2 separate regions of the Homo sapiens genome follow, and region 1 is linked to region 2. Evidence: fine-mapped expression QTL. Tissue or cell type: esophagus muscle. Region 2 holds a variant in brackets; the other region holds the start of a gene. All regions are shown on one strand. Distances are between the middles of the regions.

Region 1 (2,688 bases), 650 kb before region 2:
GTCAGGAAGATGACATTTCTGGATAATATAAATTGGCCCCAGTATTTCTGTCCATAAGGAATGAAGCATTTTTATTTGGGAACCCTATACACAAAGTGAGACCCAGGATATAAAGGAGTAAGGCAAGAAGAACAAGAAGAAATGTCATTCTCTTCTGCCTTGGCACAGCATGGTTATCACAGCCTAAGAACAATAATAATGGCTAATTTTGGCTAATAAGATCTCCAACTTTGACTTTCTCCTAAATAATGTGGGTCCTTGCGTGAGGATATTTTCTAAAGAAGCAGCAAAGATATTGCCATCATTCATTTGCTCAGTGGTGTCACTAAGAAAAATACTTCCAGAAAGAAAATTAAGGCCAAAACACTTCCTTAAACCAGGCGTAAAAGTCCTCTAACAAGGAATTTAAAAGAAAAAGATCAACACCGGATTTATCTTTCTTAAGTAACTATCACTTGAAAAACCGTCCCTCCCAGCACTCCTTAAGGAGCCAAGCATACTGACAAGGCCCCTTTGGTCTAAGACTGCGACCTCACACCCCTACTGATCGCTGAGAACTCAGGAAAGGGGAGCATCCCGCCAGCCTAGAGCGTTATCTGCACAATCTGAATACCAAGGACGGGAGAAAGAGAAGTTTAGAAAACAGTGAAGATCCCAGAAAGGAAGTTCAACTGACCTAGAAGAAAGGGCCCAGCTGAAACTGCCTTTCAAGCTCAGTCCGATTCCCCACAAATCTCCCTACATCCAGCTATATCGCCCGGCAAAATGAAACAAACACAAGGTAAGGCAATACAAGGGCAGGAATTATGCAAAATAAAATGCGTAATGAGGATGTCTCTCCATCAAAAATACTCCAGGATTTTCCTACACAATCCCATGTAACAAAACCAAATGCAAACAACAATAAACCCTTAAGAAGCGCATGAACAACGCAGACTGAGCCCATCTCGCCCCACCTCACGCCGCACCCCGGTACCCTGGCTAAGGAAAATGTGACCCCCGCCCATGAGAAGCCTTCCGGCGTCCGGCCAAGGTCCAGGAGCCGCCGGAGTTGAGTTTGCCCAACTCTTACCCAGGTCCAGAGATCTTGAGAATCGCAGCGCAACCTTTTCTCCCCGGTCTTCACCCAAAGCCAGCCAAGACACAAAATCTGTTCCAATCAACGCGGTTAGCGTCCAAGCAGCGTCCCAGAAGAAAGCAATCTTTGGGAGTCTTCTTTCAGGCGTAAAGGTGGAGAAGCGGGAAAGAGGAACGTCTCAACGCGTTCCCAGTCGCCCAGTTTTGCGCACCGGGAAAGTACTTGCTGCAAACTTGAACAAGGTTTTCTCTGTCTGGCCCGAGATGCTGGAGGGGGTGGGGGCGGGTAACCCGAGCCGGGGCCGGGATTCGAGCAGTTGCCGCTGCTGCAGCTGCTGCTGCCGGGGCAGTGGCCGCTGGGGGGTTGTCGCTTGGCGCCGCGCGCAGTCCCTAGCGCAACATGCAGGATCTTCCCGGCCTGACTGCTGCACCTCGATCGTGAGTCGCCCCTGCCTGAGCGGCTTCCACCGCCTGGTGGGTGACCCCGCCAAAGGCCTGGTCGCGAAGTTAGCAAATGTTGGGGTCACCGCAGGGGGTGACCGAAGGGGTGTCAGAGTGGGTGCCCGCCTGATTCCCAACCCACGTTGGGTGCAAGTCCCTCGGCAGAGTCCCTGGGAGGTGTTCTAGACCCTCTGTAAGGATTTGTGGGACGGTGGCCGGCGCCCGAGCGGCCAACTGGAGTGGACGGCGGGTCCTCAGTGGTGTCAGGGGAGAAAGCGCAAAGGTGGGACCCAGAAAGGATGGTGATTAAGCCGTGCCAGAGAATGTGATGTGGCAGCAAAGTACATGGAAAGGTGGGGCGGGGAGGTGAAGGCAGAGGGTGGAGGGTGGGATAGTCTGCTTTACCATGGAGGGGCGGAGAGAGAACTCCCCGGACGCGCAGGAAAATCCCCCCAGGTCCTCGGAGGCCTCGCGCGGCAATTTATTGGGGAATGGCTCCCTCTGCCGACTCGCCGAGGAGGCCCCGGGAGGCCCAGTGATGGAATGTTAAAACCATGAACGGGCTTTTCCATTTGTGGGTTAGACAGGACATGAATTCTGGAATCTGCTTCTCTGACTGTCCATCTTCCTCTTCCAGACTAAAGAGTTTTCCAGCTTTTACAGGACCCCAAAAGATACAAATTTGACTGCTGCAAAGTTCTTTCTTGTGTCGTTGAATTCTATCCCCCTCTCCCCACAAAAAAACAAAAACAGGTTTAAGCCCCATAACCACTCCAGGTAACCATCTCCTACCAGGCTTCTCTTCCTCCCATTAATAAGAACTCTTTCTTTTTAGAGAGACTTCAAGAGCGTTCGAGTCCCTACTCAATAACGCTCCTGGAAAATAGTACAGACTCCATATTATGTTTGAGTGAATAAATGAATGGAATGAATGAACATAGATATGTTTGAAGCCCCTCACCATCCTCTTTACTCTCCCTGGAAATACACAGGGGAAGACTGTTTTGGTGTTTGTTTATTTGTTTGTTTAGCAGTCATCATTGCCCCTTCTCTGGTAACAGTACCTCCATTTTTCTTTGAGATACCATCCCTGCCACAAGGACAGCAGTCTGGGTGGAAGGTCAGTCAGGATGGTCCAGCTTTTCCCTGTCCAGAAGAGAGCAACTGACC
Region 2 (2,688 bases):
AATTAAAAGTGCTACTCCAGGGAATACATGAATGATATTAATAAGTGAAACAGTCATATTGCTGACATGGGGAAAGTTTTAGTGATCCATATAGAAGGTCAAACCAGCCACAAAATTCCCTTAAGACAAAGCCTAATCCAGGGAAGCTGAGAGGTGAGGAAGCTGCAGAAGAATAGTCTGAAGCTAGCAGAGGTTGCCTCATGAGGCTTAGGAAGCTGAGTCTATAATACATAGAATTGGTGAGAGCAGCCATCTCTATCTTCTTCCTGATCTTAGGAGGAAGTGATCCAATCTTTCTTCACCATTAGTTATAATATTAGCTGTGGGGTTTTTGTTTTGTTTTGTTTGTTTTTCAATTTTTTGCTGTGGGTTTTTCATGGATGAGCTTTATCAGGTTGAGGAAGTTTCCTTTGATTCCTAGTTTTTATCACGAAGGAGTGTTAGATTTTGTTACACGCTTTTTTAGTGTCTACTGAGATCATCATGTGGCTTTTGTGTTTTATTCTTTTGATATAGAGTGTTACATTAATTGATTCTTGGATATTAATCTAACCCTGCATTCCTAGGTCAAATCACATTTAGTCAGGATGTGACTTATACTTGCACCTTATACATCCTGACTAAATGTGATTTAACCCAGGAATGCAGGGAGGGAGATACTGCACGTTCAGTTCCAGACCACTGGAAGTGCTCTGAATTAAGCTTTGGCTTAAGGGAATTTTGTGGCTGGCTTGATCTTCTGTGTAGACCACTAAAACTTTCCCCCTATCAGCAATATGGCTGTGTCATTTATCATTCATGTATTCCCTGGAGTAGTACTTTTAATTTCCTTCACTGGAAAAATTGCAATAAAGCAAGTATTGCAATAAAGTGAATCACACAATTTTTTTTTGGTTTCCGAATGCATATAAAAGTTACATTTACGGCTGGGTGCGATGGCTCACGCCTGTAATCCCAGCACTTTGGGAGGCCGAGGTGGGTGGATCACGAGGTCAGGGGTTCGAGACCAGCCTGACCAACATGGTGAAACCTCATCTCTACTAAAAATACAAAAATTAGCCAGGCTTGGTGGCACACACCTGTAATCCCAACTACTCAGGAGGCTGAGGCAGGAGAATCGCTTGAACCTGGAAGGCGGAGGTTGCAG[T/C]GAGCCAAGATCGCGACACTGCACTCCAGCCTGGGTGAGAGAGCAAGACTCCATCTCAAAAAAAAAAAAAAATTACATTTATGCTATACTGTAGTATACTAAGTGCTCAATAGCATTCTGTCTAAAAAATGTATATACTTAAATCTTAAAATATTGTTTTTGTTTGTTTGTTCTGAGATGAGGTCTTGCTCTGTCACTCAGGCTGGAGTGCAATGGCCCGATCTCGGCTCACTGCAACCTCTGCCTCCTGGGTTCACGCCATTCTCCTGTCTCAGCCTCCCGAGTAGCTGGGACTACAGGCGCATGCTGCCATGCCCGGCTAATTTTTTGTATTTTTAGTAGAGACGGGGTTTCACCGTGTTAGCCAGGATGGTCTCGATCTCCTGACCTCGTGATCCGCCCAGCTCAGCCTCCCAAAGTGCTGGGATTACAGGCCTGAGCCACCGTGCCCGGCAATATTGTTTTTTAGAAAAGCCGCAGTATGCTATGTTTGCACCTGTGAATAGCCACTGCACTCCAGCCAGTGCAACATAGCAATAATTTGTATCTAGGAAAATAAAACAAAAAGGCCGGGCATGGTGGCTCACGCCTGTAATCCCAACACTTTGGGAGGCCGAGGCAGGCGGATCAGCTGAGGTCAGGAGTTCAAGACCAGCCTGGCCAACGTGGTGAAACCCCGTCTCTACTAAAAATACAAAAGTTAGCCGGGCATGGTGGCAGGCGCCTGTAGACCCAGCTCAGGAGGCTGAGGCAGGAGTATTGCTTGAACCTGGGAGGCGGAGGTTGCTGTGAGCCGAGATCACGCCACCGCACTCCAGCCTAGGTGACAGAGCAAGACTCCGTCTCAAAATAAATAAATACATAAACAAATAAGTAAAACAAATAACCTAACATTTAAAAAAAATGTATTACTGGCTGGGCACAGTGGCTCATGCCTGTAATCCCAGCACTTTGGGAGGCCGAGGTGGGTGGATTGCCTCAGCTCAAGAGTTCAAGACCAGTCTGGTCAACATGGTGAAATTCAGTCTCTACTAAAAATACAAAAAAATTAGCTGGGCATGGCGGTGTGCGCCTGTAGTCCCAGCTATATTACTAAATAGCTTTTTTGGTGAGGATATGCCAAGAACCTCAAGTTTGAACCGCTTCTTATCCAAGGCTGCCATCTCAGTTATCTTTGATATGCTACGAAGCACCTGGCATAAGTTAAACAGAATTTATATGTGCCACGCGATATGAAGACGGCATACTAAGCATTTGTCACGTTAAAAATAGCTGTGCTGGCCGGGCGCGGTGGCTCACGCCTGTTATCCCAGCACTTTGGGAGGCCGAGGCGGGTGGATCACGAGGTCAGGAGATAGAGACCATCCTGGCTAACACGATGAAATCCCTTCTCTACTAAAAATACAAAAAAAATTAGCCGGGCGTGGTGGCAGGCGCCTGTAGTCCCAGCTACGCAGGAGGCTGAGGCAGGAGAATGGCGTGAACCCGGCAGGCGAAGCTTGCGGTGAGCCGAGATCGCGCCACTGCACTCCAGCCTGGGC

Alleles and levels. Alleles are on the strand shown, and positions count from the first base shown. SD is a standard deviation of normalised expression in the study named.
As copies of C replace T in region 2, the expression in esophagus muscle of the gene that starts at base 1,333 in region 1 goes up (moderate effect, 0.48 SD a copy in GTEx).

The links. PIP is the estimated chance that this variant, and not a neighbour inherited with it, causes the effect.
Region 1: it holds the start of MEGF10, and the variant in region 2 is fine-mapped to the expression of MEGF10 in esophagus muscle (GTEx, PIP 0.91).

The regions. Positions count from the first base shown.
Region 1 is chr5:127,289,441-127,292,128 of GRCh38, reverse strand. It overlaps MEGF10 (multiple EGF like domains 10), which reads right to left and starts at 1,333. Exons shown (of 25, transcript NM_001256545.2): 1 at 1,073-1,333. LOC105379199 reads left to right here and starts at 1,393. Exons shown (of 4, transcript XR_007058921.1): 1 at 1,393-1,551.
Region 2 is chr5:126,638,634-126,641,321 of GRCh38, reverse strand. No RefSeq gene overlaps it. Among named protein-coding and RNA genes, the nearest start is that of SPMIP10, 8.3 kb to the right of the region's middle. The variant T/C (reference allele first, on the strand shown) is at 1,148.